Homo sapiens: one gene and its partners. The protein of the gene in region 4 interacts with the protein of the main gene of each other region in a biochemical or structural test. Each region holds a gene or a part of one and is shown on either strand. Other genes may lie near its edges. The genes, in order: GARIN6, PRKD2, MYOT, APBA1, ERBB4, GRID2IP and GOPC.

Region 1 (4,120 bases), on a different chromosome or scaffold from region 4:
TGCAAAGCAGTTAATTAAGATTTAAGAAAGGAAATCAAGAATGAAGAGACTGGGAAAATTAAGCCCTTTCTGGAAAGTATGATTAAACTCAGAATTTGTTTCTCAACACTACCATTTACACAGTGCCTACTATGTTCCAGATATTATACATGTATGGTCTCAAGGTGACCATTTAAAGAAACAATCTACTGAAACTCACAGTTAATGTGTGGCAATGCTGTGATTCAAACCTGGAGAGAGAGAGGAGAGAGAGAGAGAGTCTGTGTGTGTGTATTCCTGGGTTCTCATTTTATATTTTGGAAAACAGTTTTAGAATAATTCTCCTAATGTAGGATCATATCTGAGAGTAATCTTCAACATTTTATTCTGTCATCTATTAATTTATTTAAAAAATATAAAGTTAAGGGAAAGTTAAAGATAGTTTTCAGAGCCTGATCATAAATTGCCATTAGTTTTATTGCTACCCTTCCTGTCAATAGAGCATATGTTATTAGAGCAGATAATTTGAGTTGATGGATTTTATTATGGTGAATCACATTGTTCCCCTCCACAGTCTTAGGTGAGATGTCCACCTCTGCACCATGTGTAGTACTGGGCTTTGAGGTTATTACTGCAGAGTCAATCCAGCTAGGTAGAGACCCTCTGGCTTCCATCCCATTCACGCATGTGGCCTCATCCTGCAGAGTTGAGATAACTGACTCCCAATGCTGAGTAGCAGAGAGTCAGCCTTTGAGTAGCAGAGAGATACTGTCAATGCAACAGCCTTCTCAGTATCTCTCTGCTCCTGTAGCCACCACATTCATACTGCTCTCTAGGGAGAGGCCAGTAGCACTTACTGATATGCTTGAAGTACCCTTTTAGGACAAGAATGTGCATGCAGCCCTTGCTATAACAAGATTAAGACATGGAAGCACCCACTAATAGCCATGCTGGCTATACTTCCTCCTGGACCTCTGAAGGCTGCTTTTGCCAGTGCTGTGTTTCTCTCCTGAGTCTGCAGACTTGGTTGCAGCCACATCCATGGTACCTGTGGTGGTGCTTACTGTCATCACTACTGCTGTTGCTACCCTGCCCCTTCATCAGGCACTATAGGTTTTATGACTGCAGGGGTGTGTGAACTCTTGAACGTAGTATATGTGGGAGGTATGTTGGATTCATATCTCTATTGTATAATCACAATAGGTGGACCCAAACATTTCAGCATTCATGTGAAGTCTACTGATTCTGAATTGCTCCTTCTCTTCACAAAACTTCATGGCATATCCCTAGGGAGAGAACAAATAAGCAAAGACAGTGAGACCAGCAAGATCTCCTTTCTCTTCCTATAGGTAAACAACAAAAAGAAATTATTGCACAAGTACACAAACATGTTGTGTTGCCACCAATGTATATAAGTGGCAATTGCAGGGAGACACGTCCTACAACATATCAGCCTGCCTAGGTCATAGTATGTGTTTCAGAATAGACTGGTCAGGATGCTTTGGACAGCATTACAACATTGATATAAAATGAACAGCTGTGGATATAAAATGAAGAGTTGCTGACAGCTAAGAAATCTCTGAAATTCAGGCTTGGAGAACCCTGGAGAAGCACTAGGAACCTCCTCAATGTACCATGGCCTCCAAATGGAAGCTCATTTGGCCTTCAGACCTTCCAAATGCAATGCATTTCCCAGGTGAGCTGCAGCACCAAAGGCTTTACAGGACCTGTACCTGCTCTCCCCCAAAGCATCCAGGCCCCATCTAGTCTCTGCATAGACTCACCACTGGGCTCCTCTGCACTTCCTCCAACACAGATGAGTCCAATGTGTTCCCAGCTAGGATAGCCCTGGTATCACTGTAAGCCTCCACTGGTGGTCTCAGGATGTAAACAAGGTTTTCCCAGTGAACAAAAAGGTCTTCACTTGCATCCGATGGAGGACACAGCTGAAGATAAAAAGAGCGGCCCGTGGCAAGCTTCAGGTGGAGCTGTTTTTTTACGCTGTTGTGGATGGTTATTTTCACAAACATCAAGGGAAGCAGCCTGGTTAGTTCTAAGATCTCTGCAGGCGGACTTTCTCTTTTCTGGGTGGCAGGACCACACCTGGCATTGTCACAGACAGCAGCTGGTCGGGCCAGCAGCATGACATCAGGTAGTGTGAGGCAGGGGCTGGTGCGAACGATGCCCATTGTTACCATTCGGGCACGGTTGTGCACGTCAATCACTTCTCCTCTTTTGCTGATCTGGATAAAGTCGCTCTCAAACATGGGTGCATACCTGAATATAGTATACTCGCCTTTGTACAGTTGCCGCTGCAGCTTCCCCATGGAGGTGTTAAACATGCCCATTGCGGGGCTGCTTTGGGCCGTGTAATACGGTAGCATACAGCAGTCCTCCATGTCTTCCTTTAAATCAAGACAGTTCCCAGCAGCTGCTCCACACCTTCCTTAACATGCTTTAGCGGGCATCCTGTTTCCTTGGCTACTCTGGCAGGTGGGCCAGCAGTCGTGTTCTGCAGGCTTTCTTTTTTGTCCCCAAGTGACTGAGAACAGGGAGGGTGGGGTATTGATTACCAACCGCTCAATGCCAGAGACAGTCAGTCCCCTGGATCCAGACTGTGCCCTGCTTAGTGCATGGAGCTGTCAGGAGCACAGGTGTTGGGGCCCTCGTGGATGTCCGGGCACACAGGTGTCAGTGCTCATTCGGGAGGGACCTCCATTTGAGCCTGATATTCCACTTCACAACAGCCTTTGCTCTTTGATTCCACAACCTTAACTGGCAATCCCACTGCTCTTCTTCCCAACCTGAACCATCCACTGCTGCTAAACCACCCCGCAGGACCACTTTTATCCTCCCCTACCCATTGTGACCTGCCCCATCACACACCCCTTTGTCTCTGTCACCCAGTAGTCCCTGCCTCAGAGCAGGGGCACCGCCCTCTCCACCCCACCCTCAGCCCCACCGCCCTCCACAGCTCAGCAGACCACTACCCCGCCACCAACCTACCATCTAGGGACCTTAATGCATTCTGGCAAATTGCTTTCAAAAGGGTTAGAGGTAAATTTTCTGTGCAAGGCAAGAGTTTAATATACATTCTCTGTATACTCATTTATCCAGCTCCTCTAGTTGTAGACATTTATTTTAAAGAGAGAATTGGATAAATTGGTAAACAGATTGGTACAGGATGTTTATCAATGTTTGTTGTAGAGTAAAAAATTATAAACAGCATTAGTGTCTTACAATAGGGGATTGCTTAAATAAATTATGGAGCTTCTGTGACGGGACAGTCTGCAGCCCTAAAAATGATTACGTAGTTTTCCTATTTATTGACATGAAAAGATATCCCTGACCTTTTTTTTTCTTAAAGAATAAGAGAAAAACTGATTTCAAACTCATAGTATAGGTGAGATTCAATTTATGTAAGACCACGTGTATGTGTTTGTGGATATGGAATTATGTTCAGTGAAATGTTTAAAGTGCTTAGGTATAATTTTCATTTTCTTTTTAACTTCTATTTTTATTAGGAAATTTATTTCTGTTACCAGGGGAAATAACTATTTTATTGGCAATGTATTTTTTTTTTTCTGTTTCTATAGCCATGATAAATTTTATGTTTTGACTCACCCTCAAACTGTTGATGCAATTTTTGAGTTTTACCTAGACATTCATACCCTGGCTATGGAATGAAAAGAGCCTTAAACATCACATTTATGCTCTATTCTTTACCATCAGATTGTATTGAGAAAAAAAAAAGCTGTAAAGAATTTTGCTAGGTATTGCAAATATTTTCAATTCAATAAGATTATAATATCTTTATTGAAATGACAGTACACATGATAACCCATGTGAACACAAACACACACACACACACAGAGCCATAGCCATAGTTGAGTCTTTTTTTTTTTTTTTTTTTTTTTTTTTGAGATGGAGTCTCACTCTGTCACCCGGGCTGGAATCAGTGGCGTGATCTTGGCTCACTGCAACCTCCGCCTCCTGGGTTCAAGTGATTCTCCTGCATCAGCTTTCCTAGTAGCTGGGACTACAGGCGTGTGCCACCACGCCCGGCTAATTTGTATTTTTAGTAGAGATGGGGTTTCACCATATTGCTCAGGCTGGTCTCGAACTCCTGACCTCGTGATTC
Region 2 (3,500 bases), on a different chromosome or scaffold from region 4:
GGGTGTGGTGGCATTCACCTGTAGTCCTAGGGTGGGAGGCTGAGGCAGGAGAATCGCTTGAACCCGGGAAGCGGAGGTTGCAGTGAGCCGAGATCGCGCCACTGCACTCCAGCTGGGCGACAGAGTGAGACTCTGTCTCAAAAAATAAATAAATAACAAAAAATAAAGGAATAGTGAGAACAGCCTTAGAATTACTGGGAGCTTAATATATACCACGCCTTAAGCCAATTGGTTTAGTGGATTGGCTCTTTGAATTCTCGCACCAGCCCTGAGGTGAGTATTAGCATTTGAGGCATTTTGCAGGTGAGAAGCGTGAGGCACTGAGAAGTAAGGGAACCTGCCCGGAGTCCCCCTGGCTGGAAAGTGGTGGGGCCAGAATCGGATGGGCAGCACTTGCTGATGAGCTGGAAGCAGGGAGGCTGGGGGTGGGCAGAGGGTGTGATTTGCAGGATCTGTCTGGAGTAACTGGGGGTAGGAGGAGGTGTGGGAAAGTTTGTGGGCACAGCGGGAAGTCCGAGGGAGCTGAAAGCCCGGAGGCTTACCTTATAGTATCTGTTGGTCGTGTTGTTCTGGAAGAGCGTGATACACTTGCAGTCCAGGCGCCAATAGTGCCGCTTTCTCTGCAGAGATGTTTGAAGAGTCACGTGAACCGCCAGACTTTCCTGCCCAGTCCCTATCCCGTGGAGCTGCTTGGGGCTCCAGGTGCCTGGAGCACCACGTGCACGCCGTAACTCTAGCACCTACCCCACGCCGTAACCCCACCCCACCACACGCCCTAACCCCAGCCCCGCCCCTAGCCTTAACCCTAGCCCAGCCCCCACGCCCTAACCCCAGACTCGCCCCCACTTAGCCCTCTTCCTCCAGCCAAGCTCCTCCCCTAACTCTAGCCCCGCCCCTGACCTTGCCCTGAGCCCCGGGTCTTCCCTAACTCCTGCCCGTAGTCCCACCCTTACAGCCCACACTTCTAATTCTAGCCCCGCCTCCAGCACGGCCCAGCCCACTACTGGCCCCGCTCGCGCCTAGCTCCAGCCCCACCCACCTAGCCCCGCCTACTCAAGCTGAGCCGCCCCTCTTCCAGCCTTCGCTCCGCCGTACCCGGCCCCGCCCCGGCCACTCACCAGCGTGTCCTTGTTGCTGTAATGAACCACCCAACCCTCCCGCAGCGTGGTGCTGGATTTCCGCGTCGTGTGTCGCACCGATTGCACCACCCTCATTAGGGGGATGTACCCCAGGGAGCTGCGAAGGAAGAGGAAGGGGTGAGAAGTCACATGCAGAAAGTGACCATGCTGCTTGGGAATGCAGGGGGCATCTCTGGGAAACTAGGGAGTTGGGGACTGTTTTTGTTTGTTTGGTTTGTTTTGACATTTTCCCCCCAACACACACCCGGGAGTTGCTTTTTGTTTGTTTTTAAGAGGCTCGCTCTGTCACCCAGGCTGGAATGCAGTGGTGCGATCTCGGCTCACTGCAACCTCTGCCTCCCGGGTTCAAGCGATTCTCGTGCCTCAGCCTCCTGAGTGGCCGGGACAATCACGGTGACCATTAGGTGCACGCCACCACCCCTGGCTAATTTTTGTATTTTTAGTAGTGATGAGGTTTCACCATGTTGGCCAGGCTGGTCTCGAACTCTTTGCCTCAACTCCTTCCCTAACTCCTGCCCCTAGTCCCACCCTTAGAATCCCTTCACGAGATCCATCCGCCTCGGCCTCCCAGAGTGCTTACAGGTGTGAGCCACCACGCTGGCCCAGAAGGAGATTCTTGAGAGGGCTTCTGTAGTAGGCCTTTCTGAAGTCAGGCTGCCTAGCAAATTACCTAACCTCTTCATGCCTCAGTTTGTCCACCCAAAGGGGATGCTATGAGGAATGGAAACCTTTCTACGGAGCTTAGTACAGTGCCTGGCATACAGAGGACCTCCAGTAAGTGCTAATTGGTATTTAGTCCAGCAATTGTGGAGCCAGCTGTGTGACACTGGGTAAGTGATTCAACCTCTCTGGGCCTCACCTCCCTCATTTGTGCAGATGCTGTTAGTACAGTAAGGAAGGTCTACAGAGATTAAGTGGCCTGCTGGGCATGGTGGCTCATGCCTGTAATCCCAACACTTTGGGAGGCAGAAGTGGGGGGATCACTTGAGGTCAGGAGTTTGAGATTTGAGAGATTAAGTGACTTGCTCAACTCTGGAACCAACAATCTCTGGATCCCTGTGCTAGATCAGAACCTGGGTGGCCTTGATCACATCTCTTTGCCTGAGACTCAGTTTCCCCATCTGTGAAATGGGCTGCCTCTCCCCACACCCGCCACCCCCAATCCCTCAAGGTCCAACTCTTGACAGTGTATGACGGTGTTACTAGGCATTCCCAGGAAAGACGTGGGAGAAAGGGAACCTGCGGCTTCAGGCTGCTTGGGTTGGGAGGCACCGCAGGAAACACTCTGTCGTCACTGTGACTGGCTTACCCATCCCCTTTCTGTCCAACCCTCTTCCCCTCGCCCTCCCTGCTGCAGCTACATGGGTCTCTTTGCTGTCCCTGGAACACGGTGCCTCCACCCCAGGGCCTTTGCACTCGCTGTTGCCTCTGCCTGGAAGCCTTTTCCCCCAGAGCCCCACAAGGCTCCTTCCCTCCCCTCCCTTCAACTGCCACTTCCTCAGCGAGGTCTCCTTGAAGGACCCTAAGATAGCATGTCCCCCATTCTCCATCTCCTCTTGTTTTTATCACCATTACCAATACCCGATGCTATGGATGCATTTATTAGCTGTCTCCCCACTGAGGCAGTCAGCTCCAGAAGGGCAGACTTTTACCTCTTTTGTTCATAGCTGTGTGCTTGAACACAGCAGGTGCTCATTAAATATTTTCCAGTGCACCTGTGAGGGTGCCCCCTTACCCCTACCCCAGGTTTATCACCCCGTGGGGTAGGTACCTCATCGCCCCAGGAGGAAACCGTGGCACACAGGGAAGCGCCTAGCAAGTGAAGTGGTAGAGCTGGGATCTGGGCTGTCACCCTCCAGCGCCTGTGTGAACTGTGCTTTCTCAATAAACATTCACGCCACACCCAGATAGGAAGTGCCTGATCTGAGCCAGTCCTGTCCTAGGCACCTGGGAGGGCAGAAAATATCCTTGCCCTCATGCACCTGAGCTCACATTCCAGTGGAGCTGACTAAGTATGAACTCCGTGTATAGTTTAAAAATGTGTAGGCTGGGGGCACAGTGGCACACACCTGTAATCCCAGAACTTTGGGAGGCTGAGGTGGGAGGATTGCTTGAGCGCAGAAGTTCAAGACCACCCTGGGCAACATAGCAAGACCCCCTATCTTAAAAAAAAAAAAAAAAAAAAAAGAAGAGGAATATAGGTCAGGCGCGGTGGCTCATGCCTGTAATCCCAGCACTTTGGGAGGCCGAGGCAGGTGGATTACCTGAGGTTGGGAGTTCAAGACCAGCCTGACCAACATGGCAAAACCCTGTCTCTACTAAAAATACAAAAAAAGTAGCTGGGCCTGGGCGGGTGCCTGT
Region 3 (4,175 bases), on a different chromosome or scaffold from region 4:
TAAAATGCTTGAAGGAGTGTCTTACTCATAATAAATGCTATATATTGGCTATTATTACTTTTATCCTATCACTTGCATTTGTATTTTAAGTCTCTCTAATTTAGATGGAAAGGTTTTGTCTGTATTACTGGAATTTGAAATATCAGTGAACAGATGTTGAAGAATATTTTGGGAGACTCCTGAAATAAGACTTTGTAGGCAACCACCTACTCACCAAGTCTAGCATGCTTTTTCTACTAAGGGCTGCACGCCCAGGCAGAAATTATCAAGCTTTCTTTGAACACCAAAGAAAGGTACACCTACTTGGCCAGCTGTGAAGGATTTTATATGGCTCATATGTGCTCAAACATCTATTTGCTGGATTCTAATATACATGTTAATTCAATCAAGATTGGGGTATCTACCCATGAGGGAGGGGAACTGAAGCCACCCCATGGAGATAATTCTACTCCCTTGGCCCAATCCTCATGCCACCTACCCTACTTCACCACATTTGCTGATTCGACATTTTATTCTTCTGCAATTATTTACTTCCCTGCACAAAAATGGAAATCTAAATACCATGATGGTCTCTGTGACAAAAAGTGAAAGGAAACTAACTGTTAGGAATAAAGGGAGATGAACATGCATTGACAGCTCTAATTATATAGATTGCTTATTTGTTTGGTTGTTTCTTAAGTGTTTCAAAACTCTTTCAGAATAAAAGTACTAGGCAAAAGGGGCATATGCCATACAGATTCAGAAAACTTGCTCAAGAAACACCATCATGTTTTTCCACCTCCCTACCTTCCCAGTGACATGTCACTATGACCTCGGTCTCCTGCTTTGCCCAGACTGCCCTCCACCTCGGAACAAACTGCTAGTACTGAGAGACCTCAAATCTATTATTGAATCCTACTCTCATTAGGCAAAAGAAAAAAGACTTCAGATGAAGAATTATGCAATACAAATCAATTGGGAGCCCATCTATCACTGGTCTTATTCCTGGAGAAGTCTTAGTATAATAGATAGAAGAACTCCACTCTTGAAATATTATTTTCCCTTTAGTCCTCTCTCTTAAACTGGGAAAATTCAAAGTCCCCACCATAATAAAGAAATAAGAGGGTTTTTTTTCTATTTTTCCCATTTCCCTATTCACTGCCCTTCCCTCACATGAGCTTGCTAAAGTTCATAGTCAAAATTCACGTCTGAAATAAAGAGGCTTGCAAAAGAAGCTCATGTAATCCCACTCCTTAAATACCACTAAGACACGTGAGATATTGTTTAGATTGTGGACTCTTACTTTGACATGCCAGCATAGGTAGATGGACAGGCAAGCACATCAGATGTCACTGTTTGGCAGCTGATAAAAGTCAGTGGTGCTATAATACTAAGCACAGAGCCACTAGATTAGTCTGTGAGGGAAGGAGATGCCTCTTCCTTCCCTTCAATAGTGGGTTAAACCCAGCTGGCACCCTCTGGAACTACGGGTAAGTCCCTTCTTTATTCCTACTACACTTTTAGGTCTTGTTTTTGTTTTTTGTCCAAATCAGATGAGTGTATACAAAGATGATTTTCAGATAAAAAGTTTGAAAGCCACAACATTATAATGGTATTACACAAAAATTTAAAGAGAAAGCGACTCATTCATTTCATTGAGACTGGAAGGCATTATACAAATGATAGAAGGAAAGATAGCTGTGTGTCATTATTTTTAAATCACCATTTTTCCTTGAAAAGGGACACTTGATCTGATGTAATTGTGGTGATGTCTTATGAACGCAACATATCCTCTATCAGTCTTCTGTGCAAGTCTATGCTATATTAGAGACAGGAAAAAAATGTTAAGATTTTTTAAAAAGGAGACTGAATAGTACTTTATTTATAAAAATCTTTGAAATTCATTTAACATTATTTGGAATAAAATGACCCTGTCATATAACAGAATCTATTATAGAATTAAATTGTTGAACAGTAACTACAAACATAAAGAAAATACAGGATCACCTGCGTAAATGTCTGCATAAAATTTTGACACATGGATAAAATGAAACTTATGAAATAACATATTTTTAATTGGGCTTTTAAAAATATCACTAATTATTAACAATGTAGGCCAATATCAACATGTACAAGACAGTTGCCATTCTGAAAATATATGTAAAGAAAAAAAGAGAACTGTTTCTGGAAAATATCTACTATTTCATAAGCGGTTTATTCCTTGCTATCTGAAATGAGTCTCAATAATGTACCTGCCCAGAAAGAAATTTAGGAATCAAACTCTGGATTCAATTCTGCAACAGACTGAATAAACCGATAACTACAAAACTACTTGCCTTGAAATAGACTTTTTTTTTAGATCTACTCAAGGCCCTCCTTCAGGATGTTTTTCCCCAACAATTTAAATGCCTAAAGTAGTTCATTTCTAAAATGCATTCTAGTTTAATGTATTTGTGTTCATAAACTTGAAATTAAGGAATATTTAACTTTTTAAGTATTCTTTCTCAATAGCGTCTTTCTCTTGGCTGTTTAGTTGCATTTCTGTTTTTTCCTAAAATTGCTAGTTTTAATTTAACTCTAAACTACATAGGCAACTTTGAAATACTATTTTTTGAAGGTATCCTATTATTTAGGATGAAACTCTTTGGTCTGGAAAAGTTTTATTAACATTTTATCCAAGACAGTAACTAAAATAATTAGAAGACTTCGTTTCAATGATGACAAACAATTTGGTTAATTTTTCAGTTAAAAGTTTGATTTGTCATTATCTCAGTATTGGCTTATACCAGATGAAACAAAATAGGCAAATGTATTTTGAATCAATTTATCTGATATTTTCAATGAAAACAGGATTAGTGTGAAAACAATTTATAGGACTAGTCTTTGTGTGTAATGTCTATATATAGTCCCGCTTAGGTTTACCATACTAATGGAAAAAAAATCAGAGACAAATATAATCCTTCAAGGTTGATTTTCATGGCAAATGTTTCATCTGAGAAAAAATGAGGATGTACTGTAGGAAGGCAGGAGGCCCACTACAGAGCTAAGTAGGAGGAATGGCACCTGTCTTTTCTTGGTAAGGTATAGACTAGTTTCATATGTGTCTTATTTACTTCTATGCTTCCTGTTTGCCATTTGAAAAGAAAAAGTAAAAGAGCTAAAGCAATTTCAAAATTAGTCTGAGATCTCCAAAGGTGTGGCAAAAAAAAGAAAAAAAAGACCAAAAAACAAAATTAGTCTAAAATACATACTAAACAAATAATAAAAAGTAAAACTCTAGATAATTAAAAGAACATCAAGACCAACAACTAGGAAGTATAATCTAAAAATAACAGAATTATAAGGTATGATTCTGTTTAAAAATACATAATAAAAACAGAAAAATGTATAAGTGGCTCTGGAATGCAGCCTGTAACATATGTTCTACACAAACATATACACACAGTCACTCCTTAATTAATATCTAGTTTAGTAATATGGTCAATTTGGAATCAAGGAGAGAAAAAGAAGCAGTGAATTGTAAGGTTAAAAAGCAATCCACTCAGCTGGGTGCGGGGGCTCATACCTGTAACTCCAGCACCAAGGGGGGCTGAGGCGGGAGGATTGCTTGCAGCTAAGAGTTTAAGACTAGTCTAGGCAACATAGTGAAACCCTGTCTCTACTAAAAAAAAAAAAAAAAAAGAAAGAAAGAAAAAAAGAAAAATTAGCCAGGCGTGGTGGCTTATATGTGTAGTCCTTACTCTGGAGGGTGCAGTGGAAGGATCGCTTGTGCCCAGGAGTTGGAGGGGCTACAGTGAGCTATGTTCGCCTGGGCGATTAAGCAAGACACACACACACACACACACACACACACACACACACACAAAAGGAAGGAAGGAAAGAAAGGAAAAGAAAAAGCACATCAGATCTGAAAGATGTCAAATAAACAATGTTATTGTTTAAGCAAATATTGTAACAATTATTTTCTCCTTTTGAAGGAACAATATTCTTCAAGAGAAGGTCACTCTACCAAAGCCAGGAGCACAGTATTCTCAGGATCTCAACAAGGAAGAGCAGACCAAGGTTGCTTCTGATTCCTTACAACCTTCCGTAATTCCAGGCTTGTGGCCCCAAATTCAGGGCCCCACCCTTCCAGGAACAAATCATTATAGTAATAATTTGCCTTCATCTTCCATATACCAACTAAGCATGTTTAA
Region 4 (3,500 bases):
CTTGGATTTCTGAGCTGCCATTTTATTGGAGGTGCCAATTAAATAAAGGGTCATTTGGTCCCCATGACAACAGTGGAACGGTACAGCAAATTAAGAAATCTGGTGGGAGGGGAAGCCCAGAGAAGAGGGGCGAAGAGAGAAAAGAGAAGCCAGAATGGTCTCTATAGCAACGGGAGAGCAGAACCATGATGCTCCTGGGGAAGCAAGGGAAGCTGTGCGCTATTCTAAAACAGAGCAAAAACCCAGAGGGCAGGACCACAGAGGCAAAGGCACAGAAAGAGGCAGCCTGTAAAATGTTCCACCCACCAATAATTATGCCTTGGGAATTAATTATGACCCAAAAAATAAGGTAGGAAGAGTAAGGCAAGTCAATACCTATAATTCTACTCTAGAAATTGATTTCCTGTAACCTGGGGGGACAATAGTCAACCAGTATTGAAGTGGCCAGATGCAGAATGCACACTTTGGATCCCTGTTCCTGAAAGTGTAGCCTGCAGACTGGTGATGCCATCCCCGCCGCAAAGCCTGCCAAAAATGCAGAATTCCACCCTATACCTGCTGAATCAGACCTGCATTCTAACAAGATCCCCAGGTGATTCCAATCAGTTTGAGAAGCACTGATTCATCAGGATGAGAGTTGCTTGTCAAAGTCACTGCAAAGAGCATGGACATACACTGAAACAAATTTGAACACAGCCTTGAAGTGGTCCAGATGCTGCTCTGCAGTGGCCCGAGGGGTGGGGGTAGGGCAGTGTGCACATCTGTCCAGGTGCAGGCAAAAAGGGGTGTGTTTTCTAGAGAATTTTAAAAAGGTGATACGACCCACTGATGTCAGTCTGTATTTGGTACTGGTGATTCTGGCTGTTATCAGTGGTTACACCTCCCACCAGCCAGGGTGGTCCACGGACGGACCATCACATTTCCCCATTCAACAAGCGGCGCACTGTGGCAGGGAGGAAGTTCAGCTGTGCTCTAATCGGGGTCTGCCCTGCTAAGTACTTCTTCACTATGGGTGGCCACGAAAGCACTGCTTTTCTTTTCTTACTCTTCATCTTCATCAGTTACATCTCTTTTATCACCACTCGGCCTTTTAATTTTCTGGTTCTATAGAGATTACATTTATAGACATCAAAGTTCAGCTCCTCAAACAATCCATTTCCCCTTAGGAAACTGTGCAGACAGAGCTCCGTCTGTACTCCAGCAAGCTTTGCTTCCACCTTGATGCTGTGGCAGCTGCAGAGGGAGTCAGGCTGCCCTCATAGCCTCACTGCTTCCCTCCTCTGGTCCCCACGCAGATAAGGAAGGAGCGATTCGCAGGAGGGTGGGGACTCACTGGCCAGCTGGGGGCCCTGGGCAAGTCTCCTGTGCCTTTAGAGTCTCTGATGGCCCATCTGTGCACCTAGCATCTGCTGTCCCCCTTGTGGGCTGTCCTGAGGAGGAAAGGAGGTGACTCCAGGCCATGAGCTGGAGTCTTAAGGGCCTCAGGAAGCGCGGCTTGTTCCTGCCCAGGCCCCATCCCCACCTTTACTTAAGTCCTCCCCTTGTCTGAGTCTGTTCTTAGTCTGCCATGACAAAGTACCACAGACTAGGTGGCTTATAAACAACAGGCATTTATCCCTCACAGTTCTGGAGGCTGGAAGTCTGAGCTCAGCGTACCAGCACTGTCAGGTTCTGGCAAGAGCCCCTTCTGAGTTGCAGATGGCCAACTTCTAGCATCTTCACATACCAAAAGAGAGCTTGCTGGGGTCCCTTTTTTAAGGGCACTAATCCCAACCATGAGGGCTCCACCCTCCTGCTAATCACTTCCTAAAGGCTCCACCTCCAAATAACATCACATTGGGATTAGGGTTTCAATATGTATTTGGAGGGAACACAAATATTACTCAATACTTTACTTAACCCCCTATCCCCGCTCCTCCTCCCCAACCCTTCTAGACTCAGACCAACTCCCCACAAACCATCCCTAACCAGCTTCCCTCTCTCATCGATTTCTCTCTCTTGCATCTGAACTCCTATGCCGCTCAGGCAGTTTCTCAACCTCAGCACTACCTACATTTGGGGCTGGATAACTCTGTGCTGTGGGGCTGTCCTGTGCATTGTAGGATGTTTGACAGTATCCCTGGCCTCTACCCACTGGATGCTGGCAGCACCTTCTCCTCCGTGACAACCCAAACAGTCTCCATACATTTTGGGGGATGAAGATCACCCCTGGCTGAGAAGTACTGCCCCATGGTCTGGCCTTGGGCCTAGCATTTCACCTGACACCCTCCCTGGGATGACTCTGTATTGGAGGCTGTATGACCACAGACGATTACATCATCTTGCTGTGCCTCAGCTTCCTAGCTTGTACAATGGGTACAAAATAGTACCTGCCCACAGAATGCTGCCCCGAAGGCTCAGCAAGTCAGTCCACACATATTCTCAGAGCATCCAGAGCACAGACACACAGCACTGAGCACTGTGAGCCATAAGTCCTTTCACTTCTCCTCAAACCGACCAAGCTCCCTGGGGGGCAGGGACTGTGTCCACGGGGCCCCTGGGTCCCACAGCCCCTCAGCAGTTCTCATGCATGCACCCAAGGTGTTTAATAAGCAACTTGCTCACTGGCAGGAGCGACTTGTGGTCCTGCCTCCCTAGCCCCACCCCCCCGCTTGCCTCTCCATGCAATCACAGCAACACCAGACCAGCCGTTCCGGGCCAGGCTCAGACCCCATCTCTCCCTGACTCAACACCGGCCCCTGTCCATCAATTCAAGCAGAAACTTCCAAACGCCACTTCCCTTTCTGCTACCTACCTAGGTTTTATTCCTTCAAGGTCAACTTTAAAATCACATAAAATTGTCCATCTAATCACTTGTAGCCTCTCACCTTTATGTTGGCCGCAGAGCCCTTGCACGTCTCTAATTATCCTGCACATGCACACTGGCAAGCCAGCTTCCTCAGAGCGCAGCTCAGTGCCTCACAGAGGCCCAATTAAACCTTTCTGAATGAATATCCATGTTCAAAGTTGATTCTCTAATCTTACCTTTAACGTGTATTAAGCAAGAGGTAGAATTTATTTAAGTATAAGATATAAGAAAAAGAAATTAAAGGAGGCCAAAGAGGACTATTTCTTTCCAGATGTGATTATCTTATGTGAAATTAGAATTTACTCCATTTCATTAAAAACAAAAAGTCACCATCCATGTGTCCTATACACTCACCTTCACCTCCCACCCCCACCCCCTTAGCTGAGGAGGCTGGCTTTGTGATTTTTCTTTTGCTCACAATGACTATTTGCACGAATTAATCCCCTTCCTTCTCCCTCTCTCTCACACATGCACATACGCACACAGCTATGTTCCAGCTAAGTCTTTCAGGAAACCCCTACAGGACCCCAAAAAACGCTGTGGAATCTCAGTCTAGCTACAGTACCGCAGCACTTGGTGCAGAGCTACTGGGGTCTACAGATGCCATCATGGAGGAGGAACATCCTGGTCACACTGGCCATGCATTCAGCAA
Region 5 (2,793 bases), on a different chromosome or scaffold from region 4:
ACAAAGTGGGGTGTAGGATCTCAGAGATCCACTATGGCTTAAGAAAGGAACAGGACAGCATCGGGGGACTACTTTGAACCAGGGTGGTAGAAAGGGAAGAGAGCAGTGCCAGTTGTGTCAATGGGCAAAAAAGGGAAGGATTCTATTTTCCTCTAAAGGTCAGAGAGAAATACATTTTTCTTTGATTCCTAACAAGGTAATCACTTACTTGCAAAGCTGACTGTCAAAGAGTATTTTCCAGAGGAAGCATGTGAATACCCCCCGTGAAATTGGGGCTTAGAGTCATTTTAGCTTGTGACTATAGAAGCATTTACTTCTGCCCAAAATGTCACCTGGCCAGGAATTAGGTGAGGCAGGGGCCTGCAAAAGTGACAGATCCTACATTTTTGGACCTCTACAAAATCAGTGAGACTTGAACCGAGTATCTGAAATTTCTATTATTTTAGAGAGACTTTTAATGAAAAGAAAAAAGCAGCTCACACTGCTAAAAGATATTTGCCCACACAAACACAAGGGCCCCTGGCCCGACACAATGCCCACAACAGCTTCTTGTTTCCAACTGCAGAGAGAACTCAGATCTCTGGGATCAGAAAAATTTTATTAATTCTACCCAGAAGTATAAAAACTGGCCCCATTGTAATATCAGTAATAATGAGGTCTCCACTGATAATGATCTTTTAAAATTATGCCTGATCTCATCTGTATAATATTTGTTCTTAAGCAAATAGCAACCAGGCGATACCAATCTGCATTTATATGTTTACATGGGGCAAGGCTGTCCTTCAAACTGATACACACCGAAGTCCATGTACACAAACAGAGGCACAGTAAGATCCTCTGCCCACAGTATATACAGTAGAAGTTAATTTATCTGTTTCTTTTTTTTTTTTTAACAACTAGAAGCTGATGTTGTAGGATCAGCTCTAGGATCCTCTGCCCACAGTATACAGTAGAAGTTAATTTATCTGGTTTTTTTAACAACTAGAAGCTGATGCACATGGATTTCTCATTTGCCCTATAACAATCATCATTCTAATAACTAAAGTCCAAAAGAATGGCAATGCAATAGTTTGAAACGCTTGGTTTAGCATTTATTTATCAGAAAAATTGTGATTCTTTGTTGTCATTTTTGGAGGCAAGAGGGCATAGTGAGAAAAGAAAGGACATATCACCAATTAACTGTATTTTGTTTGTTTGCTAGCTAAATGACACCACTCCTTTTTTTTTTTGTCTCTGCATAAGGTAATAGAACATTTACATTTTCTTTACTTCATCTTGAAGACCCTTACTTAGTCATATGTAACATGTTTGCCTATTAAATTCTGCAAGGTGGTGTTTATTTAAAAAAATAAATAAATACAATTTTCTTTACATTTAAAAAGTGATAAAGGAATAAGAGAATGAGAAAAAATTGTTCATTGTAATGCTTTAAAGCAAGTTTTCCCAAGTGGAACCATATATGCCTACTTTCAGCTAAACCCAACAAACAACAATTTTAAATGGCAAACTTATCTTTTTACTATGCAAAATCCATCCTACATTTTTATATCCTGCATTTAACTTTGTTACATTATACTTGTGGTTAGTTTTCTAGTTTGATTTATTTAATAATATTAAAATCATTTAACATCTGATAACCTAACTAAATCTACATCTTATAGCATTATCGTGGTTCTGTCCAGTTATATACATGCTTTCATGATCACCTTTTCTATTACCTTATGAACTACATATACTAGTTAAATTATCAACAATTACAGATGGATGAATAATTCCAGTTTTGAAATAAAGGTTAGAGAGCTCTAGAAAAACTTGTATTTACATCCTTCCCTGTCAGGCTTAAACAATTTTAATTTTCTTTTCATTTTTGATACTTCAAGAAGCACATTAATAGTCCTTCCAACTTCATCTAGTAGCAGAGCCTCACACAGTCCTTTTCTTGATTTTTCCTTAGCATTGTAAGTATGCACAATCTTCATGCCATGTCTTTCCTTTAGAAGGTATTAGCTCACACACTATAACACTTAAACACTATTCCTTCTCTTAAATTAGATATTCAGTCCTTCTCCCTAATCTACAAAAAAGAATCACTTGATTTTAGTTTGTGTGTTTTAATAGAAATTTGAGTTTTGCGTTGTTTTTCATGCTATTTTAAGAATGTTACTGGAGAAAGGATTCTCATCCTAAGCTGTGCTACTAATACTATGCAGAAAACCAGGAGCTGCTTGGTAGTCTAACACCTTTTGTGGTGCAGATGCTTTGTGGTTCTGGATCTATCCTAGATCAGAGGCCATCTTTCCTCACCTGTTTACCACTTTCTTTAGGCAATCATTTAACTGCAAAATTTTTCCATACCTGCCCAAAATAGGTATAATCTACAAAGTTGGGTGATTTAAAAAATATACTCCGTGTAATTTTAATACTAATTTGTCTCAGATTTACATAATTGATTCTGCAAATTTCAATTGCTACAATTGGCCTCTGGAATCTGATATCCCCCCAAGCACTTTGAAGACTTTAACTGACATTTTAAAATTCTACCCTACTGGACTAAATAAGTTATTCTCTGGAAGGAATGAAACTTTTTTTCTCCCTCTTATACATGCTGAAATATGTTTTCCCAGGGGGGACAAAAATAAAACAAAAAACACTCAAACAACTGAAGTCAATTATATACTACAGAAATCATTCAAAAGAATTATAAAGTGGTGCTATTATAAAGCATTTGGGTCATTTTGGATTATTCCTACATGCATCTCTAGGTATTACCCAACATGTAGAAGTCTTGTGTTC
Region 6 (3,500 bases), on a different chromosome or scaffold from region 4:
CCTGAATTTTGACTCCCTCAGTTCTCTCTCCAAACTTTTGTCTTTGTCCACAAACCAGCTGATACTAATCAAGGCACATCTGCACACAGGAGTGTGTGGCCATTGGAAATGAGCGTGCAAATGGACACGTTGGAAACGTGTGCAAATGATCACGTTGGAAAGGAGCATGCAAATAGACATGGTGGAAACGAGCGTGCAAATGCACACGTTGGAAACGAGTGTGCAAATGGGCACATTGGAAATGAGCATGCAAATGGTCATGTTGGAAATGAGCATGCAAATGGTCACGTTTCTGGAAGGCAGGTTGTTAAGTGTGTCCAAAGCCCATCCTTCTACCCAATGATCTCACATGTAGGAATTTATCTTACACACATCCTGACAAGACACATGCACGATGATGTATGAGTGAGGTGGTTCACCTGTGTATTATTTCTAACACTAAGACGTTGGCAGCAATATAAATATCTGACAGTGGGGGCTAAATAATTGCAGTACATCCATGTGGGAGATATTTGTAGTTTCTTGGCTATCTAGGCCAAAAACAAAGAGGAAAATCTCAGCCAGGCGCGGTGGCTCACACCTGTAATCCCAGCACTTTGGGAGGCCAAGGGGGGCGGATCATCTGAGGTCAGGTGTTTGAGACCAGCCTGGCCAACATGGTGAAACCCCGTCTCTACTAAAAATACAAAAATTAGCCAGACGTGGTGGTGGGTGCCTTTATTCATCCCAGCTACTCGGGAGGCTGAGGCAGGAGAATCGCTTGAACCCAGGAGTCGGAGGTTGCAGTGAGTCGAGATCTTGCCATTGTACTCCAGCCTAGGCAACAAGAGCAAAAACTCCATCTCAAAAAAAAAAAAAAAAAAAAGAAAAAAGAAAATCCCAAAGTAGGTGGGAGGCAAGATCCTGGCAGGGCTGGGGGCAATGGTTCACACCTGTAATCCCAGTGCTTAGGGAGATCGAGGCAGGAGGATTGTTTGAGACCAGGAATTCAAGACCATCCTGGGCAACATAGCATGACCCCATTTCTACAAACAAATTTTTTTTAAATTAGCCAGATGTGGTGGTGCATGCCTGTAGTCTCAGCTACTTGTGAGGCTGAAGTGAGAGGATCACTTGAGCTCAGGAAGTTGAGGCTGCAGTGAGCCAAGATTGTGCCACTGCACTATACAGTCTGGGCAACAGATCAAGACCCCATTTCAATAAATAAATAAGAAAATAAAACCATGAAATAGGGAGTGATGGCTAAGGAGTGCAGAATTTCTTGTTAGAGTGATGAAATTGTTTGAAAATGGATGGTAGTGATGGGTGTTACAATCCTGTGAATATATTAAAAACCATCGAATTGCCCACATGTCATACAGTTTAGCCACTGAAAGCACATACTCCATGAGACCCTTCCCTTGTTGGCTGAGGGTCTGGTTGTCTCTGGGCACTGACAGCTGGAGCTGACCCTGAAGCAAGGCTGGGCGGCTGAGTGAGTCCATGAGTCGTTCACGTCTCCCTCTCTCGAGGACTTGTGGGTGCAACTTCAGCCTGAACTGGGGCTGTCAGGCCCCGCCTCTCTCACCCTCATCCACCTCCAAACTTCTCAACAGACTCCGCATCCTTCCCTTCCATCCTCTGCTCTCAGAGGTTGAAGAGGCCCACTTCCGGCCGGGTGCGGTGGCTCACGGCTGTCATCCCAGCACTTTGGGAGGCGAAGGTGGGTGGATCATCTGAAGTTAGGAGTTCGAGACCAGCCTGGCCAACATGGTGAAACCCCATCTCTACTACAAATACAAAAATTAGCTGAGCATCTGATGGCAAACGCCTGTAATCCCAGTTACTCGGGAGGCTGAGGCAGGAGAATTGCTTGAGCCTGGGAGGCGGAGGTTGCAGTGAGCCAAGATCGTGCCACTGCACTCCAGCCTGGTGACAGAGCGAGGCTCTGTCTCAAAAAAAAAAAAAGCCCCCTTTGTAGTCAAGGCCAAATCACCAGGCCACAGACACCTCACCATTCCCAGTCTCCACCCCTTTCTTCCTGCCACCTACTTGTCATTCAGCTTTCAGCTCAAAGATCATCTCATCAGGCAGCCTTTCCTGGCCACCCTGTCAAAGTGGGTTGCGTCACTCTCACCTCACCCTATTTATGCCTCCACTTTATTCATCATCATCTTTTTTTTTCTGGAGTCAGGGTCTTGCTCTGTTGCCCAGGCTGGAGTGCAGTGGTGCAATCATAGCTCCCTGTGGCCTTGAACTCCTGTGTTCAAGCGATCCTCCCACCTCTGCCTTCCGAGTAGCCAGGATCACAGGTGCACGCCACTGTGCTTGGCTAATTTAATTTAATTTTATTATTATTATTATTATTTGAGAGAAAGTCTCACTCTGTCGCTCACTCTGTCGCTCTGTGCAGTGGTGGGATCTTGGCTCACTGCAACCTCCACCTCCTGAGTTCAAGCAGTTCTCCTGACTCAGCCTCCCAAGTAGCTGGGATTATAGGCAAATGCCACCACGCCCGGCTCATTTTGGTAATTTTTGTAGAGATGGGGTTTCACCATGTTGGCCAGGCTGGTCTCAAACTCCTGACCTCAGGTGATCCTCCCACCTCGGCCTCCCAAAGTGTTGGAATTACACGTCTGAGCCATCGTGCCTGGCCTGTCATGATCTTTAATAGCTTGTGTATTGATTAATCCACTTGCTTACTGTCTCTTTCCCTGCAGTAATGTTAGGTGTGTGAAGTCAGGCTCCTTGCCTGTGTTGTTCATGGCTGTTTCCCCTGTCCTGCACATCATAGGCCCATGATCAATGACTGGTAAATGCATGGTTTTCTTTTTCTTTTTTCTTTCTGTTTTTTTTGAGATGGAGTGTCACTCTTATTGCCCAGGCTGGAGTGCAATGGCATGATCTCGGCTCATTGCAACCTCTGCCTCCCGGGTTCAAGCGACGCTCCTGCCTCACCCTCCTGAGTAGCTGGGATTACAGGCACCCGCCACCACAACCAGCTAATGTTTTGTGTTTTTAGTAGAGACAGGGTTTCTCCATGTTGGCCAGGCAGTCTCGAGCTCCTGACCTCAGGTGATCCACCCGCCTCAGCCTCCCAATGTGCTGGGTTTACAGGTGTGAGCCACTGTGCCCGGCCTGCATGGTTTTCAGTATATCTACTTCTCCATTCCCTGCAGCTTATATAAATGTTCAAGTCTCTCTCAGGCTATAAATAAATAAATAACAAGCTGGGCACAGCAGCTCATGCCTATAATCCCAGAGCTTTGGGAGGACAAGGCGGGAGGATCACTTGAGGCCAGGAGTTGGAGACCAGCCTGGGCAACATAACCAGACCCTGTCTCTAAAAAATGAAAGACAGCCGGGCGCGGTGGCTCATGCCTGTAATCCCAGCACTTTGGGAGGCCGAGGCAGGCGGATCACAAGGTCAGGAGATCGAGACCATCCCAACTGACACGGTGAAACCCCGTCTCTACTAAAAATAGAAAAAAAATTAGCCAGGTGGGCGTGATGGCGGGCGC
Region 7 (3,500 bases), on a different chromosome or scaffold from region 4:
CCAGTTTTAAAATACTGATCATGTGCAAATGCAAAACAAAACAAAAAACCTTTCAATCCTTCACTATCTTCCTTAGCAACTACCATCCTCCCCCTTTCCTTAACCTCTACACGAAGTTCATCCTCATCATATCTACTTCCTTGCCACTCACATTCAGTCCTCTGGTCTCTGTAATTAGAGTTTTGCCCCTACATGCACAACTGGAATTTTCTTTTCTGTGGTCACCAGTAATCAATATTGTTACACACAATTAACACTTTTTGTCACTATCCTACTTCAAACTTGCAGAAAGTTGATACTGTTCATCAACCCCTCCTTGAAACCCACTCTCTCTGTTAGTTTTTATTACACTACTTTCCTAGATGGCCTGTATCTGACAGCTCCATCCCAGGCTCCTTCCTTTAGTGATCCTTTTCCTTCTCCCACTCCATAAGTTTCTATCCTTGGCCTCCTATTCTTTTTACTACATATATACTTTATATATACATATATACTTGGAACAGGCTTAATGAGTTCCAAGGTTTCAAGTATAATAGAAGGATAGTTTCCCTAATATTTCTTCAAAACAGATTTCTCTTCTGAAATCCAGAGTCATATGTCCAGTTGGATGTATCTTGGATACCCCATTGTCACCTCAAACACTACTTGTCTAAAACTGATCTCATCATCTTTTCCCCAAATCCTTCCTTTTCTTCTATTTCCCTTCCCAGTGAATGCCAGATCTCACTCAGTTGCTCAAACTAAAAGCCCAGACTCTTCTTTTTCACTATTTAACCAAAAGCAGTTAGTCACCAATCAAGCCCTCCTGATTATAATCCTCTCAAATCTATCCTTCTTCTCAAATGCCACTTCTCCTGACCTCATCACTTTCTCCTTGGATGACCATAGTATCTTTCTAATATATCTCCTTGACTCCAACTTGGTCCTCTTCACTATACCAAAATAACTATTAAAAAATGTAAATTTTATGAAGTCTGCCATTTTATTTAAAACTTCCATGATTATCAGGTTAAAGTTAAAATTCCTCTATTTAGTATAAAATAATTTCTATAATCCAGCCACTACCTAAAACCCCAACCTCATATTTAGCTAATTTAACAAGCATGCTTTTATCACTCAGACACATCTGATACAAACTACTTTGTCTTCCTCCTAACCGCTCCATTTCCCAAATCTACTGGACCTAGAAGTTAATGGGAACCACCAGTGCCCTAGAAAACAATGGCATAAGTGCTTATCGCTATCCCCACTTCTCTTCCACCAACTCTATTTACATACCAATTCTTCTTACAAAAATCTTTGCAGAGCCAACAAACTATTTTACTATTTAAGGCCATACATTATCTGGTACTAAGATATGTGAACCCTTGGGAGACATGCTTTCATATATTAAGGTCTATATTATCAAGCAGCTGTTATGATAAAATTCAATAAAGATTTATCCAGATAGAAGCTTTTATATAATGGTGGCTACAGAAGCAGACAACTGGCTACAGATCTCAAATTCTATCTTAATCCAAGACCAAACAGGTGTAAATGTTAGTTCAGAATCTACATTTGGATTCAGTTACTAAAAGTTCCCTTAAAGAACTACCCCAAAATATCTGCCAAATTATCAATATGACCACACACTCTAAGCTAAGATTAAAACAAATTCAAGCATGCCCAATCATGATCCAGGAAAAACTGGAAATATGATCCAACATTATAGCAATATGCATTTGCTAACAATGGCTCACTGTCTGCAGCACTCTCAGGGCATTAGTAAGTCTGTGAAGAGCTACTAAAATTTCTATGGGTGTTGAAACTTCATCTACTTTGAATAAGTTGAATCCCATTTTCACTTTTAAATAAAGGTTTCAAACAATACTAGAATAAAGGAAAGAATGGAAAGCAACTGTGATTAAAGAAAGAAAGAAGAGGCTGGGTGGGAAGCAGCAGCAAAGCAAACATACATGGCCTGGTGGTGCTTGCATTGGTCGTTTCAAGTCATTACGTCCTCTGCAGGCTCGGATCACAGTTTTGTGACGATGCAAATGTATTTCAGCTTCTAATTGGTTCCAAAGCTTATCATGAGCAGGTCCCTTCATATCTCGTCCTAGCAATTGTATCTGTTGGACCCTTCATATTGGGAAAAGAGTACATTGATTTTTCATTATATTCACTACAGTGAGAATTCAGGAAAATTAGTGAACATAAGTAGCTTTTGCATGAATCTCAAATTAGTGATAAAACTAATACTCACGAACTTCTTGATGTCTCTCAGATATAAAAAAAATATGAAAACTCTGAAAAGAACAGGTATCCTCAAGGGAAAAACCAGTAAAAAAAATTTTTAAAGGAATTAATGTGAACTCCTTTAGTCATATACTTAATTCAAATAAATCTAAAAAAAAATTTATGAGATTAATGTCAATCTATGTCTTGCATGCAAAGTCACTGAACTCAGATACTATTAAATGTTAGCTTTTAGATGAGATAAATGGACAAAAATATTTCTTCTAATTAGAGTTTCTTTTCACAAAATGATTACTTTAAATGTGGTTAAAAGTTACTAGAACCAGCCAGGGCAACAAGGCAAAACCTTAACAATTAACCAGGCATGGTGGCATGCCTGTGGTCTCAGCTACTTGGAAGGCTGAGGTGGGAGGATCACTTGAGCCTGAAAGGTGGACGCTGCAGTGAGCCAACGTTGCACCACTGCACTCCATCCTGAGCGACAGAGTGAGACCCCATCTCACAAAATTTAAAAAAAAAAAAAAGTTACTAGAAAATTTGTACTTCAAGATGATATAAATTATTTTTTCTTTGTTCCATGTTTTTAATGTGACATTAAAAGAATATGCACAAAATGATTTAGTACTAATAAGTCACCAAAGTTTGTTAATAATTTACTTAATAAATACAGCAGAATTCTGTGTATGATTATGATAAAATCATTGTCATTAACTAAATACCAACACGTTTTTTTGAAGGGCAAGAAAGACTGGGTTTCAGTGATCATAAAAAGAATTCCTTATGGAAGTTCTGCTATGCATGTGAATATCGGCTGTACTGGTCTCAAGGCACAAAATAGTTGAAAAGTGCTGCTCTACAGAGTTGTTAGCATTTCACAGTAAGATACTATCAGTGTTTGTGTGTGTAAACTAAACATATTTAGTATGGATAACTAGATCTGCGATACATAATGCTGTCAGTATTAATTTAACAACAGTAAGTTAAAACCAACTGTAAAATAATTCTGAGGAAAAAGATTAATGCTTCATTTACCATAAGAAAAAAGAGTAGGCCAGGTGCGGTGGCTCACACCTGTAATCCCAGCACTTTGGGAGGCCAAGGTGGATGGATCACAAGGTCAGGAGTTTGAGACCAGCCTGGCCAACATGGTGAAACCCCATCTCTACTAAAAATACAAAATTTAGCTGGCCGTGGTGGCAGGCACCTGTAATCCCAGCTACTCAGGAGGCTGAGGTAGGAGAATCGCTTGAACCCAGGAGGCA

The links.
Region 1: the proteins of APBA1 (region 4) and GARIN6 interact in a test that uses a peptide from one of them, tested with the Homo sapiens proteins (one large-scale study listed by IntAct).
Region 2: the proteins of APBA1 (region 4) and PRKD2 interact in a test that uses a peptide from one of them, tested with the Homo sapiens proteins (one large-scale study listed by IntAct).
Region 3: the proteins of APBA1 (region 4) and MYOT interact in a test that uses a peptide from one of them, tested with the Homo sapiens proteins (one large-scale study listed by IntAct).
Region 5: the proteins of APBA1 (region 4) and ERBB4 interact in a test that uses a peptide from one of them, tested with the Homo sapiens proteins (one large-scale study listed by IntAct).
Region 6: the proteins of APBA1 (region 4) and GRID2IP interact in a test that uses a peptide from one of them, tested with the Homo sapiens proteins (one large-scale study listed by IntAct).
Region 7: the proteins of APBA1 (region 4) and GOPC interact in a test that uses a peptide from one of them, tested with the Homo sapiens proteins (one large-scale study listed by IntAct).

What each region holds. Positions count from the first base shown.
Region 1 is NC_000012.12:99,646,433-99,650,552, reverse strand, and holds GARIN6 (Golgi-associated RAB2 interactor protein 6), read right to left. Parts: upstream 2,801-4,120; 5' UTR 2,379-2,800; coding exon 1,764-2,378; intron 1,266-1,763; coding exon 1,155-1,265; 3' UTR 439-1,154; downstream 1-438.
Region 2 is NC_000019.10:46,696,615-46,700,114, forward strand, and holds part of PRKD2 (serine/threonine-protein kinase D2), read right to left. Parts: intron 1,237-3,500; coding exon 1,119-1,236; intron 621-1,118; coding exon 543-620; intron 1-542.
Region 3 is NC_000005.10:137,866,485-137,870,659, forward strand, and holds the start of MYOT (myotilin), read left to right. Parts: upstream 1-1,375; 5' UTR 1,376-1,469; intron 1,470-3,956; 5' UTR 3,957-4,167; coding exon 4,168-4,175. UniProt on the Homo sapiens protein: Component of a complex of multiple actin cross-linking proteins. Involved in the control of myofibril assembly and stability at the Z lines in muscle cells.
Region 4 is NC_000009.12:69,445,372-69,448,871, forward strand, and holds part of APBA1 (amyloid-beta A4 precursor protein-binding family A member 1), read right to left. Parts: intron 1-3,500. UniProt on the Homo sapiens protein: Putative function in synaptic vesicle exocytosis by binding to Munc18-1, an essential component of the synaptic vesicle exocytotic machinery. May modulate processing of the amyloid-beta precursor protein (APP) and hence formation of APP-beta.
Region 5 is NC_000002.12:211,378,010-211,380,802, forward strand, and holds part of ERBB4 (receptor tyrosine-protein kinase erbB-4 isoform JM-a/CYT-1 precursor), read right to left. Parts: 3' UTR 1-2,793. UniProt on the Homo sapiens protein: Tyrosine-protein kinase that plays an essential role as cell surface receptor for neuregulins and EGF family members and regulates development of the heart, the central nervous system and the mammary gland, gene transcription, cell proliferation, differentiation, migration and apoptosis.
Region 6 is NC_000007.14:6,541,462-6,544,961, forward strand, and holds part of GRID2IP (delphilin), read right to left. Parts: intron 1-3,500.
Region 7 is NC_000006.12:117,571,512-117,575,011, forward strand, and holds part of GOPC (Golgi-associated PDZ and coiled-coil motif-containing protein), read right to left. Parts: intron 2,122-3,500; coding exon 1,956-2,121; intron 1-1,955.